Linked DNA regions of Homo sapiens: region 2 is linked to region 1. The links come from fine-mapping of genetic effects on gene expression. Tissue or cell type: whole blood. Region 1 holds a variant in brackets; the other region holds the start of a gene. All regions are shown on one strand. Distances are between the middles of the regions.

What was found. PIP is the estimated chance that this variant, and not a neighbour inherited with it, causes the effect.
Region 2: it holds the start of LINC00639, and the variant in region 1 is fine-mapped to the expression of LINC00639 in whole blood (INTERVAL, PIP above 0.99).

Annotation. Positions count from the first base shown.
Region 1 is chr14:38,822,635-38,830,743 of GRCh38, forward strand. All of the region lies in intron 4 of LINC00639 (long intergenic non-protein coding RNA 639), which reads right to left. Among named protein-coding and RNA genes, the nearest start is that of LINC00639, 90 kb to the right of the region's middle. The variant T/A (reference allele first, on the strand shown) is at 4,459.
Region 2 is chr14:38,912,932-38,921,040 of GRCh38, forward strand. LINC00639 (long intergenic non-protein coding RNA 639) reads right to left here and starts at 3,951. Exons shown (of 5, transcript NR_039982.1): 1 at 3,851-3,951. LOC105370457 (a long non-coding RNA gene) reads left to right here. Exons shown (of 5, transcript NR_135256.1): 5 at 6,067-6,270.

The DNA of each region.
Region 1 (8,109 bases):
AACTGCCATATTGTTTTCCACAGCAGCTACACTACTTTACATGCCCACCAGCAGTGCACAAGGGTTGCAATTTCTCTATACCCTCACCAATACCTGTTTTCTGTTTCTTTTTCTTTCATAATAGCTATCCTAATGGGTGTGAAGTGATATTGCATTATGGCTTTGATTCATATTGCCCTAATGATTTCCTAGTGATGTTAAGTATCTTTTCATGTGCCCATTGGCCACTCATATATCTTCTTTGGAGAAATGTCCATTCAAGTCCATAAAGCAACCTTGTATTTTATTCTTTGTTAACTCTACAAATGATACCATATTAATGTTTTTAAAAATTGATGTTTTCAGCAATCACCACATCTATCTAGCAGCATAAAACAGTTCAAATTTCAGATCCTTTTTTTTTAATTTTTCATTTTTTGTAGTACTAGTATGCAAGCTTCTTTACAAAGAAAAAAATACCAACCTAGCTACTTTGGGATCCTGTTCAGCTCTGTGCTTGTAGATCTACACAACCACACAGACAATTAAGTGTAGAAGGCACTCTATCATGTCAGATGATACAGAGCTACACTGTCCAATATAATGGCTATAAACCTCATATAATTATTGAGCACTTAGAATATGGCTAATCCCAATTGAGATGTTTTATAAGTATAAAATTTACATCAGATTTCAAAGATTTAGTGATATGGTTTAGCTGTGTTTGCACCCAAATCTCATCTTGAAGTATAATCCCCATAATCCCCACGTGTTGTGGGAGGGACCCAGTGGGAGGTAATTGAATCATGGGGTCGGTTTCCCCCATGCTGTTCTCATGATAGCGAGTGAGTTCTCATGAGATCTAATAGTTGTATAAGCATCTGGTATTTCCCCTGCTGGCACTCATTCTCTCTCCTGCCACCCTATGAAGAGATGCCTTCCACCATGATTGTAAGTTTCCGGAGGACTTCCCAGCCATGTGGGACTGTGAGCCAATTAAACCTCTTTTCTTTATAAATTACCCAGTCTGGGGTATTTCTTCATAACAGCATGAAAATGAACTAATACACTTAGTATTTTATAAGTAATGTGAAATATCTCAATAGTTTTTAAACTGATATGTTAAAATAATATTTTAGATGTACTGAGTTCAATAAAACATGTAATTAGATTTAATCTCACCTGTTTCTTTTTACCACTTTAATGTGGCCATTGGAAAATTTTAAATGACATATGTGACTCTGATTTATGGCTCACATTCTGTTTCTATTGGACTGTAGATATAAATAATTGTGACTAAGTAGACCACTTCTATGATTGTGGATACACAAGTTAACTCAGAATTAGAAAATTTTCCATGTAATTCAAATTGTTTTTCAAAAACAAATTCTTTTCATTATTAGTATATTATATTGTCCAGAATTATCTAGGTGAATGCCATTATTCTATATTCAAATTTTTTAGTATAAACACTGCCTCTTGCATTTAAGTTTACCTCATGGGAATTTCTATGCCTGTTCAGAAATAAATTGTTGGAAACTCTTTTTAGTATAGTGGTAGAAGGGCAAAAAAGAGACAAACTCTCTCCATCAAGCCCCTTTTTTAAATATCATTTCAACTTTTATTTTAGATTCAGGGAATACATGTGCAGGTTTGTTACATGGGTATATTGTGTGAGGTTTGGGATACCAATGATCCCACCACCCAGGTAGTAAGCATAGTACCCAACAGGTAACTTTTCAACCCTCGCCCTCCTCCCTTTCTCCCTTCTAGTAGTCCTCACAGTCTACTGTTCTCATCTTTATGTCCATGTGTACCCAATGCTTAGCTCCCACTTATAAGTGAGGACATGCAGTATTTGATTTTTTGTTCCTGAATTAACTCACTTAGGACAATGGCCTCCTGTTGCATCCATGTTGCTGGAAATGACATGATTTCTTTATTTTATGGCTGCATAGTATTCCAAGATGTATATGTACTACATTTTCTTTATCCAGTCTACCACAGATGGGCATCTGGGTTGATCCCATGTCTTCACTATTGAACATACTAGTATGTGTCTTTTTGGTAGAAAAAATTTATTTTCCTTTGGGTACATACCCAATAATGGAATCACTAGGTCGAAAAGGAGTTCTAAGTTCTTTGCAAAATCTCCAAATTGTTTTCCATAGTGGCTGAAATAATTTGCATTCCCACCAGCAGTGTATAATCATTCCTCTTTCTCTGGAGCCTCACCAGCATCTTTTTTTTTAACTGTTTAATAATAGCCATTCTGACTAGTATGAGATGGCATCTCATTGTGGTTTTGATTTGTATTTCTCTGATGAGTGATGTGAGCATTTTTTCCTATATTTGTTGTCCGCTCATCCAGCCCTTTTATAATGGCATTAATCCATTCATAAGGGTAGAGTCCTCATTACCTAAACACTTCCCAAAACTCCCCACCTCCCAACACTATTGCACTGCAGATAAAGCTTTCAACACATGGGTTTTGGAGGACATATTCACATTATAGCAGTGAAGGACACAAAGGAGGGCTAAGATTATTAATTTATTTAAAGATAATTTTTAAAAACTGAGGCAAATCAGTCATGGTGTTAAATTTATGTGACAAAAAATATTTTGTCAGTATTATTTGAAGTATTTTCTAATTTTATTGATATAAAATCAAACTTATATTGGTAAATTCTCTTTCCCTTCTAACTTGTAAGAGCAAGTTATTGTTAAGAAATAGAAATAATTACAAGCTACACTTTTTCAGTCAGACTGGTAATACATTTTCTTTCAGCCTATTATCTGAGAAATGTTATGAAATCTTCAAACCCAATATTAACTAGATTTGTCTTTAAGATATATTTTGCAAACAACAATCAACTTTTGATTCAGGGAAGTTTCTCTAAACTTTCTTCTTATTCAAGATATCTGCTTCTGTCACAGCCTTCTTTCTTTCACTGCTTTCTGCAATAATAAGATCATCCTATAAGCTCCGTGAGCTGAAAATAAATGTATTCCTGAGGTAATCCTCTCTGGTCCCAGGTTTCTAATTAAAACATGGTACTCTGGTGTGCCTCTATTTATAATCAGAGAACTAAGAATTTATTGACAAAGGCTCTCCATTCCCTAATGCCCCCAGCCCTCCACACACAATTAAAATAAATAAATAAGATTTTTTTAAAGCAACGGGAGGCAGGGTGTTTTGAAAGTGTTTAAAATAACTGTAAATGTTCATGCATGCCAGTACCAACACACTTCACACCTCTTTGCTTTTTATTGCAACAGCACCTTTCACCAGGGAATCTGAAATTCTTTAGACATTTACACTTCACCTCACCAATGCACACCGACTTTGCTAGATCTCGCATTTCCTACTCAATTGCTGCTCAACCTGTCTCTCCATTTCTCTCCCTTCACCTTCCCTTCCTCTTACCTACTTCAAATTCAGTGTGCCTGAGCCTGAGTCTTAGCATAACAGAGAAGCATCTCTCCTCAGTTGGAACATCCTGAATCCAAGACAATGTTTATAAGTTCAGAATTGATTGAATTGTGAATGTTTTACATTATCTGCATTTTAAAATCTATCCTATGTCCATTAAGTAAATAGATTATATAATCAGCTGCTGATTTAATTATTTTGTTAGTTGTTACATTGGCATCGTGAAGCTCTTTCAAAACCTTCTGCAGTGGTTCCACCAAATCCTAATATCAAGTACATACTGAATTTACAAACAATTCTAAAAGAAAATTAATCAAAAAATCCTTGTGGTTCCATACATTGAAACAGAATAAACACAAAGCCCTTTGTACACAAGGCTGCCTTCCTAACCAACGCTTAGTGCAAGTAGGTGAACTACTTTAATTACCCAGAAAATTCCTTTTTAAAATGTGATTGCTATATTTGAAAGAAAAAAAATAACAATTTACAGATCTTAGTACTCTAAATACAATGTTTTGTGAAAACAGGTAAGTTTTATGTTTGTGGATTAACCAGGCTGGTTTTTAAATTGTACTCTACAGATCAGAAGCGATCAGTGAGAACCTCTCTTTCTACATGTAGTGCTGCCGCTGGGAAGAAATCGGTCATCATGAATATTCATTGGACACCACCAAGTGCTACACCAGACTGAGATGGAGAAGGAGAAAGAGAAATGGTCCATCAAATTAGAAGAAAAGCCCTTTTCATGATTTATGAAAAAGAGAACTATTAAACCTTATGCACTACAAGATTTTATGTCTTTTATGTCAACCTATGAATAACTTTTCCTCTGCAATATTCCAATTTTATTTTCCCTTTAATAATACAACTTTTAAGTACTAAGGATACATAAGATACTTTGTATTAATGATGCTTAGTCAGTCATGGATGCCTGACTTATTAAGGAATACTCAAAATATTCAAATATTTATGTTAGTAAATCTGCTTCAGACTACAAGGAAGAGTTGCTATCTGACTGCTTATGCAATGCTGCTCTGTCCACTACC[T/A]TCCTGTCTTTTTTTAAATTAGGTTCTATTGCCCAACTTGCCTGTTTTAAACATTTAGCCAATGTCCTTGAAGTGTTTTCATCATTATCAAGTAAAAATCTGAAAATGAGAATAGTATTAGTATCTACAGCTCTCTATTTTTGTCTTTAACTTATCATGCACCTATTTTGTGCTATTATATATATTCAGTATCTTGCATATAACCTTATTTAAAGAGTATAGCATCATTGTAAAGCAGATACATTAAGGTGTCTGTTTTACAGATGAAGAAATCGAGGTTCAGCAAGGACTTGCTCAAAGTCACACAACTGGCAAGTGACAGAGACTGGATATGAACTGAGTCAGACTCCAAATTTTGACTCAAAAAAGACACTACCTTTGTGCTCTATAAAGTGCATTCATTAGGGCCTTTATCATGCCAGTCTGTCAGCAATTGTGTTCCCCCTGGCTCGGAGCCTTTCCTCCACACTTCAATCAAATAGAAATCCCTCATTGCAGTTGAGAACTAAGTGGAGTTACTGGCCCAAAGCATTCAGGTTAGCTCTATGGATAGTTTCCAAGTTGACCAAATCGTAACTGACCTGTTGAGAGACACAGGTGATTCAGGAGATAATTTTTTTCATACTATACTGGGAGGTGAATGGTAAAAAATACCATAGGATGAGGGAAACAAGGGGAAAATGAACAAAAACGATATCCATTATAACTACATAAAAAGAAACTGGCACACCAAACATCAGTGTTATTATGAAGAACTATTCACCATCTGAATCTGACCACAGTTAGAAAACCTGCCACATCACAAGCGCCTTGGATAATAAAAACATCTATTTCAAATGTTTTCCTAAAAAGCATTTTGAAAGAATAAATAAGATTTCAAAATAGAAAAAAAAATCTAACTGCATAAACTGAACACAATGCTGAATGCTATCCTCATCCAAACTGTCTTTCCTTTATCTTACTTATCACCTTCAATATACAATAAAAGTTCAGCCACAAAATCAGCTTAGAAAGGAGAATTACCTGGCCTAACTGCATAGATTGATTTGATAGTGAGATACTTTCCTGCAAAGACATTTATGTGTTATCTGGAAGAACTTTTAGCTCTTCATTTTAAGTTTTACCAGCGATTGATTTATTATAGGAAAAAGATTCAATTTTTCCTCTTATGCTCAGCAATGTGATTTTTTTAAGAAACAACAAGGCGAGCATGAGAGTTCGTGTCTGTAATCCCAGCACTTTGGGAGGCTGAAGTGGGTGAACCACTTGAGCCCAGGAGTTAAAGATCAGCTTGGGCAACATGGTGAAACCCCATCTCTACAAAACACTTAGCTAGGGGTGGTGGCACATGCCTGTCATCCCAGCTACTTGAGAGGCTGAGGTGAGAGGATCATCTGAGCCCAGAAGATCAAGGCTGCAGTGAGCCATGATTGTGCCACTGCACTCCAGCCTGGGTGACAGAGATAAGAGCCTGTCTCAAAAGAAAAAAGACAGGTTCAGTTCAAATAGGAAATCAGCATCTGTGGTTTCAGCTGGATTTCCCAAGTTACAGGGTTCACCTTCTGAATATGCTGCTATTCTTCCTCTTTTTGACGTTTCTGCACTTCCTAAGATCTCTAGCCCATAATCTTGCTCTAGAGACTACCATCTTTGAAACCTAACTCTCTCGTACTCTTACATACATTTTTGGTTTAGATGCTCATTGCCTAACTCTCAAACTAGAACTCTTGTTCTTCTTGAGCAAGAAATCTTTTCCTTCCTATTTACTTTTGTTTTTCCAAAAGCTGGCACAAAATTAGCACTTAAAAATAACTTTTGGCTAGCTGACTATTTCAAGAGTTCCAAATGACTTGGACGGAGACACAATTTTAAGTCATCAAAGGTCCATGACAACATATAAACATTGGACTGTTTCAAGATGGAGGTCTGACTGGTGGTTTTTCTTCCCTTTTTTGGTGCAATAGAATTTATATATTTAAACATTAGGTCAGTTACCTAAAATAAGTTAAACATTAGACCAGTAACCTAGAAAGAAAACTTGTTTTGAGGTTGCTAGTAATTTGGGTTCCAAGTTTAATGAGCCAATAAATCAAATGCTAAAGAACAAGATGATTGAATTTGAGAAGACAGTAGAAATAAGGATGTACCCCTTAGAGAAACAAAGAGTTCCCCTAGATAAACAGAAGAAATGGACAAGGAGCAATAGAAATGGGGCAGTGAGTACAAGGCAACCTACAAAGTCTGGAAGTAGTCCTTAGGAAGTTGTTCAAGGAAGGTAAAGGGCCACAGCCTGATAGGAGTTGAAAGAGTAACTGACAAAGGACCATTAAGCCCAGAAGCTGACTAGAAAGTGAGTTGCTCAGGCAGAATGCCCAGCCCTTACTCTCAGCAAGAATGTCCCATTTTGTGTGCCCAGCAATGACACCAATTGTTCTTATTGACCTACATGCTCAGAACTTCACTTCGTTATCATCCAGCACCTCAACCACTGATTGCCCTGTGTGGACTATTTTCCTTAAACCTCATCAGCTTGTGCTAATGTACTCCAAGAAAGGGAGGTGGGACTGTGGACATCTGGTGGGTAAGGAAAATTATCAGCATATCTGGCAGGTAGGAAGAATTATTGGTACATCTGTACTGTGTGGGATGAAATGAACAAAGGGTGGTAAGATCCCTACTCTACTGGCATCAAAAACAGTTGAACCATCTATTCTCAAGTGTGGAATCCTTGAGGCTTTCAATGTAACAATGTCTTTGCAACTTCCTAGTGAGGCTACTCATCAAACATGGTAGTTTAAATATACCTGCTTTATTCTATTCCATCCTAAAATATCACCAGAATAATAACAGAATAGTAAAGGGGATAACAACAGATAAGAGATATTATAATTTTGGAAGACAGAAAGTAGATGGGCCAGTGTTAACTAGCAAAGCAGAGGAAATGAAACCTAAGTGCGTGGAACTGGGAAGCCACTATACAAGGAAGCTAGTTGGTGCTCCAGAATCCCAGGAAGCATGAGGAATTTGAGAAACTGCTTACTACAGAGGGTGAAGGGTGAAGAGTGGGACTAAAAACAAGAGTGTGGCTGAAAACCTATATAGAGGACAGTTATCTTCCCACCCTTTCACCCACCCCATCCAGCCAGAAAACTTCTCATACACTATTTCATCAGGAAAGGAGAGGTTTACTCTAGATAATTAAACCATCGATCTCCTTCTCCCTATCAACTTGTAAAATACTAGAAGTCGGAAAATTGGGGAATTCTTTTCTGGAGAGCTTGATCAGCTCAAGGGAAAAGAACTAATATTGAGAGCTGGGTGTCTTCTCCCACATAAACTACTAGATCTTTGCCCAATCAATAAGCCCAGCCAGATTTTAGTGTCTCAGTCAGATTCTTAGTGCCTCACTCTTTAAATACAAACAGTAAGCCAAGCATGTTAGCCTTTTGAGGAAAGCTTCAACATGAAAGACCTAAACAAACAAACAAAAATTTTAACAAAAACAGAACTCAGCAAAGAAAAGCAATATGGAGAGAAGCAGCAGTCATTTGTAATAAATAACCTCACAGGAATTAAGAGAGCATTACAGTCATAAAACAAAGTCAGGATGCTATGTTTCAAAAAGAAAATTCAGTGAACAATAAAGCAGTC
Region 2 (8,109 bases), 90 kb after region 1:
CAATCACAAGGATTAATAGCAGAATAGACCAAGTGGAGGAAAGAATTTCAGAGCTTGAAGACTGTGTTTCTGAAATAAGACAGGCAGACAAGACCAGAGAAAAAAGAATGAAACAGAATGAACAAAACCTCCAAGAAATATGGGATTTTGTAAAGAGACCAAATCTACAACTGATCAGTGAACCTGAAAGAGATGGGGAGAATGGAACCAATTTGGAAAACATAATTCAGGATATTATCCATGAGAATTTCCCCAACCTAGCTAGAGAGGCCAACATTCAAATTCAGAAAATGCATAGAACCCCAGTAAGATACCCCATGAGAAGCTCATCCCCAAGACACATAATCTTCAGATTCTCCAAGGTTGAAATGAAGGAGAAAATGTTAAAGGCAACTAGAGAGAAAGGCCAGATCACCTACAAAGGGAAGCCCATCAGACTAACAGTGGACCTCTCAGATGAAACCCACAAGACAGAAGAGATTAGGGGCTAATCTTCAACATTTTAAAAGAAAAGAAATTCCAACCTGGAATTTTATATCAAGCCAAACTAAGCATCATAAGCGAAGGAGAAATAAGATCCTTTTCAGACAAGCAAATGATGAGGGAATTTTTTTTACCACCAGACCTGCCTTACAAGAGCTCCTGAAGGAAGCACTAAATATAGAAAGGAAAGATTATTACCAGCCACTACAAAAACATACTGAAATACACAGACCAGTGACACTATAAAGTAACCACGTAAGTCTTCAAAATGACCAGTTAACATCATGACAGGATCAAATCCACACATATCAATACTGACCTTAAATGTAAATAGGCTAAGTGCCCCAATTAAAAGACACAGAGTGGCAAGCTGGATAAAGACCCATAGGTACGCTGTCTTCAAGAGACCCATCTTACATGCAATGAGACACAGAGGCTCAAAATAAAGGGATGGAGAAAAATCTACCAAGCAAATGGAAAACAGAATAAAAGGAGGGGTTGCAATCCTAGTTTCTGACAAAACAGACTTTAAACCAGCAAAGACCATAAAGGACAAGGAAGGACATTACATAATGGTAAAGGGTTCAATTCAACGAGAGGAAACAACTATCCTAAATATACATGCACCCAACACAGGAGCACCCAGATCTATAAAGCAAGTTATTAGAGACCTTCAAAGAGACTTAGACTCCTACAAAATAATAGTGGGAGACTTTAACACTCCACTGACAATATTAGACAGCTCACTGAGACAGAAAATTAACAAAGATATTCAAGACCTGAACTCAGCACTGAAGCAAATGGACCTGATAGATGTATATGGAACCCTCACCAAAAACAGAATCTACATTCTTCTTGATGCCACATGGCATTTACTCCAAAATTGATCACATAATTGGAAGTAAAACACTCCTCAACAAATAAATGCAAAAGAACTGAAATTCATAATAAACAGTCTCTCAGACCACAACACAATCAAATTAGAACTCAGGATTAAGAAATTCACAGCCAGGCACAGTGGCGTGAGCATAATTCCAGCACTTTGGGAGGCCAAGGTAGGCAGATCACCTGAGGTCAGAAGTTCAAGACCAGCCTGGCCAACATGGCAAAACCCCATCTCTACTAAAAATACAAAAATAGCCAGGTGTAGTGGTGGGCATCTGTAATCCCAGCTGCTTGGGAGGCTGAGGCAGACAGAACTGCTTGAACCCAGGAGGAGGATGTTGCAGTGAGCTGAGATTAAGCCATTGTACTTTAAGCTGCATGACAGAGCAAGACTCCATCTCAAAAAAAAGAAAAGAAAGAAAGAAATTAATTCACTGAAAACCACACAGCTACATGGAAATTGAACAACCTGCTCCTGAAGGACTTCTGGGTAAACAATGAAATGAAGGCAGAAATCAAGAAGTTCTTTGAAACTAACAAGAACAAAGATACAATGTACCAGAATATCTGGGACACAGCTAAGGCAGTATTAAGAGGGAAATTTATAGTGCTAAATGCCCACATCAAAAAGTTAGAAAGATCTCAAGTTAACAACCTAACATCACCACTAAAAGAACTAGAGAACCAAGGCCAAGCAAATCCCAAAGCCAGCAGAAGAGAAGCAATAACCAGAATCAGAGCTGAACTGAAGGAGATAGAGACATGAAAAACTATTCAAAAGATCAATGAATCCAGGAGCTAGTTTTTGGAAAAAATTAATAAAATAGATAGACCACTAGTTAAACTAATAAAGAAGAAAAGAGAGAAGATTCAAATAAACACAGTCAGAAATGACAAAGAGGATATTACCACTGAACTCACAGAAATACAAACAACCATCAGAGAATATTATGGACACCTCTATGCACATAAACTTGAAAATATAGAAGAAATGAATAAATTCATGGACACACACACCCTTCCTAGAAAAAAGGGATAAATTCCCGGACACACATACCCTCCCAAGACTGAACCAAGAAGAAATTGAATCCCTGAGTAGACCAATAACAAGTTCTGAAATTGAGGTGGTAATAAATAGCCTACCAATCAAAAAAAGCCCAGGTCCAGACAAGTTCACAGCTGAATTCTAGCAGATGTACAAAGAAGAGCTGATACAAAGGCTAGACACAGTGGCCCACACCTGTAATCCCAGCATTTTGGGAAACCAAGGTGGACAGATCACTTGAGCTCAGGAGTTTGTGACCATCCTGGGCAACATGGCAAAACCCCATCTCTACAAATAATACAAAAAATTAGTAGAGCATGGTTGTGTATGCCTATAGTCTCAACTACTTGGGGGGGCCAGGCAGGAGTTTGTGACCAGACTGGTTGACAAAGTGAGACACTGTCTCAAAAAAAAAAAAAAAGAAGAAGAAGAAGAAGAAAGAAAAAGAAGAGCTGGTACCATTTCCATACATCTTCTGAAGTCTAGGCAGGGGGTCTCAAACCTCAGTTCTTGACTTCTGGGCACCCACAGGCTCAAGACCACATGGAAGCTACCAAGGCTTGGTGCTTCCACCCTTTGAAGCAACAGCCCAAGCTGTACCATGGCCCCTTTTAGTCAGGGCTGGAGTGGCTGGGACACAGGGCACCAAGTCCCTAGACTGCACACAGCACAGGGACCATGGGGCTGGCCCACGAGAGCATTTTCTCCTAGGCCTCTGGGCCTGTAATGGGAGGGGCCGCCATGAAGACCTCTGATATGCCTTGGAGACATTTTTCCCATTGTCTTGGGGATTAACATTTGGCTCCTCATTACTTATGCAAATTTCTACAGCCAGCTTCAATTTCTCCTCAGGAAACCGGTTTTCTTTTTCTATCAAATTATCAGGTTGCAAATTTCCCGAATTTTTATGCTCTGCTTCCCTTATAAAACTGAATGCCTTTAACAGCACACAAGTCACCTCTTGAATGCTTTGCTGCTTAGAAATTTCTTCAGTCAGATACCCTAAATCATCTCTCTCAAGTTCAAAGTTCCACAGATTTCTTGGGCAGGGGCAAAATACCACCAGTCTCTTTGCCAAAACATAACAAGAGTCACCTTTGTTCCAGTTCCCAACAAGTTCCTCATCTCTATCTGAAACAGCCTCGGCCAAGACCTTATTGTCCATATTGCTATCAGGCTTTTGGTCAAAGCCATTCAACAAGTCTCTAAGAAGTTCCAAACCTTCCCACATTTTCCTGTCTTTTTCTGAGCCCTCCAAACCATTCCAGCCTCTGCCTGTTACCGAGTTCCAAAGTCACTTCCACATTTTCAGGTATCTTTTCAGCAGCACACCACTCTACTGCTACCAATTTACTCTATTAGTCCATTTTCTTGCTGCTGATAAAGACATACACAAGACTGGGCAATTTACAAAAGAAAGAGGTTTATTGGACTTACAGTTCCACATAGCTGGGGAGGCTTCACAATTATGGCAGAAGGCAAGGAGCAGCAAATCACATCTTACATGGATGGCAGCAGGCAAAAAAAAAAAAATGACCCTGTTCAGGAAAATTCCTGTTTTTAAAACTGTCAAATCTCGTAAGACCCATCACTATCATGAGAACAGTATGGGAAATACCCACCCCCATGATTTGATTATCTCCCACTGGGTCCCTCCCACAATACATGGGAATTATAGGAGCTATAAGATGAGATTTGGGTGGAGGCACAGAGACAAACCATATCACATGGAATCAACCTATATGTCCACCAACAGTAGACTGGATGAAGAAAATGTGATCAATATACACCATGGAATACTATGCAGTAATAAAAAAGAAAGAGATATGTCCTTTGCAAGAACACAGATGGAACTGGAGGCCACTATCCTTAGCAAACTAATACAGGAACAGAAAACCAAATACTGCCTGTTCTCATTTATAAGTGGGAGCTAAATGATGAGAACACATGGACACACAGAGAGGAACAACACACACTGGGGCCTTTCAGAGGCTGGAGGGTGGGAGAAGGAAGACAATCAGGAAAAATAACTAATAATTAAATAACTAATGGGTATTAGGCTTAAGATCTGGGTGACAAAATCTGTACAACAAACTCCCATGACACAAGTTTACCTATGTAACAAACCTGCATTTATACCCCTGGACTTAAAATAAAACTTTTAAAAAATAAACAAATGATAATAGCAGATTATAGCCCATTAAATAAACTAGGAATTCATGAGTTCAAATTACATAAACAAACAAATAATTATTCCTTACATAAGAATGCTAATTACTGTATGCAGAAGGAAAGGTAGAATTGGAAGGTCATTATTTGGCAACTATTATAGTAGTAGTTGATTGAAGAAGAAAGCATCAAATGATGCTGAATCTGAGTGAAGGTTTGATGACAACCAACATGGTCTCAAATTATCTCCCCACAAAGTGCTGTTAACTGCAAAGGGGAGATGAGTTACTTTGCAGTCATAAATGTTGTATCACTGGGCACAGTGGCTCATGCTTATAATCCTAGCATGTGGGAAGCTGAGGTAGGCTATTTTCTTTTAGTAATTTCATGGCTTGTGGTCTTAGATTTAAGTCTTTAATCAATTTTAATTTGACTTTTGTATATGGCAAGAGATAGGGGTCTAGTTTCATTCTTCTGCCTATGGATATCCAGTTTTCCAAGCCCCACTTATTGAAGAGACTGCCTTTTCTCCAACATATATTCTCGGTACCTTTGTTGAAAACAAGTTTACTGTAGATGTATGAGTTTGTTTCTGGGTTCTCTATTGTGTTTCATTAGTCTATGTGTCTGTTTTTATGCCAGTACTATGCTGTTTTGGTTACTGTAGCCCTGTAGTATAATGTAAATGACAAGTTAACCAGTGCAGCACACCAACATGGCACATGTATACATATGTAACAAACCTGCACATTGTGCACATGTACCCTAGAACTTAAAGTATAACAAAAAAAAAGAAAAGAAAAGAAAGGAACAGAGGAAAAGGAGGAAGGAAGGAAGGAAGAAAGGAAGGAAGGAAAAGAGGGAGGGAGGGAGGTTGTATTAAAATGAGAAAATTGATTAGTTCACAAATTATGCATTAAAAGGCCCACAGTTTACTAGATCTATAAATTCCTCAGAACCCCTAAATACATTGGCTTTTTAGAATAAGTGTTAAATACACACACACACACGAACACACACAACCCACAATACAACTGATGTGGCCTTGTGGAAGGAATACGTAAAGCTATTTGCATTATAGTGCTAATTTAGCTTTTCTTTACATTGAACCTTAATAACCAGAATCTGCTTCTTTGTAACTTCTGTCCATTTATCCAGTTTCCACCCAAGGAGAGAGAGCAAGTCTCATTGCTCAACTATTCTAAATCTGCCACCACGATCCCCTAAATCTTTTCCAGGCTGAACACTCCAGATTTCTTCTACTCTTCCTTAACTGATAGGACTTTAGTTCTCTTGGCTGCTTTTCTCTGAAGTATCCCATTTTGTCTGAGACAGTACTGTGACGGTACTATGATACCTCTGAAACAATAGTATGGTACCAGTGTCTGAGCAGAATGGACTGGCACTCACAAAACCAGATATTGTATTTTCAGTAGTGCACCCAAGGGTGATACTATTATTTATTTCTTTTATGGAATTTCCAGCTGGAGATGCAGTCTGGCATGTGCTATGAAAACAATCACCAATTTCTGCACTTGATTAGTCTGCCCGTCGCCTCAGCCATTGTCAGCCACATTGCGTTATTCGAAAATGCATTGCAATGTATTTAGAGTTATGAAGTCTTAGAGTTTGTACTTGATTCTGTAAATAAATTATTATTATGGCTATTAAAACTTTTTAAAAGCAAATTCTCCTCACCTGCTCTTCTTTTCCCAAATTAATGAGCTTTCCTGGAGATGTTTAATCTCAGAAGTTCATCCTACAGTATGCAAGATTAGTCACTGCAAGGTAATGTTACATTTCATATCTGAGGTCAGAATAGTATTATTTGGAGCTGTTGCAAAATTTAGAAGATGAACTGATTTAGTATTATTTTTAAGATTAGAATCAAACAGAAAAATCTTTGCTTCGGACTGAATTAAGAAACAATATACAAACTAGCAATATGACAACATCAAACCAATGTATCACTATATCATTTTAATTATGTAAGAAATAAAACAGCTAATGTTTGTTTACTGTTTCATATGTGCCAGGGATAATTCTAAATGCATTATGTCTATCATCTCATTTAATCCTTAGAATATGGATGAGGAAATGAAAGCCCAGAAAAGTTGCCATGTCACACAGCTAGTGGGTAACAGAATCAAGATTTGAAACCAAACTGTCAATGTTGAACCCATACCACCTCGTGGTTCTCATTAGCTGCAGTCAAAGACACTCTGGCTGGAAAATCCAGGGGCAGTGAGGACATGGAGTGTGTGGAAGCAGGCTTCCTGTGCTACTGGCAGGACTGTCAGCTAGTACAAGCTTTCCAAGGGAAATCTGGCATTCTGTTTCAAAAGCCTTACCATTTATTCTGCAGAAATTGAACAAGTGTCAAAATATGTCTTCTGTAAGGTCAACTGAGGAAATGTAAACAATAACAAAAAAATTAAAATGACCTACTGTTCAACACAGGTGATTTGGTAAATAAACGGTGATACATCATAGAATGAGGTTATTGCACAGCCATTAAAATTATGATTTAGCTGTGTAAAGACAAAAAAGGTATAGACACAGCTCAGTGAAAATTCATGTATAAAACAGAATCTAAAATGTGTTATTGTTTATAAAAATGTACACATAACATTTATATATATATACTCATTTTTAAAAGCTCAGAAGTATGTAGACTAAAATGAAATCAAAAACGTATTTCTGCATAGTTATATTAACAGTTGTTTTTCCATTGTAATTACCTGTATTTTTTCACTTGTCTACATTAAGCATGTATTATTTTAGAGAAAAATACAAGTTTAATTCCTATTTTTAATGATAGATTTAAAAATAATGACTAATAAGATACATACTATCTATTAAATAAGAAAAGAATAATTCGAAACAGAATAACGTGATCTCATCTTTGTAAAATCTGTACAGTTTATTTTAATAGTATAGTATATTATAAAAGTACACTTTTTGTATTTAAATATATTACATTATAAAAATGCTGGTAAGTTCATCCTTATCTCCAAATAGTAAAGGATGGATTTTATTTTACTTCATTTTGCTTATCTATATTTTTTATTGTATACTGCTTTTATAATTAAAATGTGTTAATTTTAAATAATCTATTATTAGTAATGAATATTGATGAGTTGTATAAAAAAGAGAGTTCAAAAATTACATAACCACAGCAAAAAAAAAGTACTAGCATTCAAAATGGCTTAAAGAAATATAAGTTGTTAATTCTCACCAGCACTCAGAGACTTGTCCACCACAGTTCCCAGGGAAGATTAAAATTAAAGCACTTAACATAACTTCAAAATATGAGGATCCCAGCAAGCAACCCTGAAATGCTCTTAGTATAGCAGACACAGGGAAAGCCATCAATGTGTTTCTTTCTGGAAGGTTTATTTTAATGACAAATGGAAACATTATAACTTACATTGTATCTTTCTTATCGTGTGAAAGGAATTAATACAATAATAGCCTTAGTACTTATTAAATTATACCCTGAAATTTCTCCATAATATAAAAGTTAA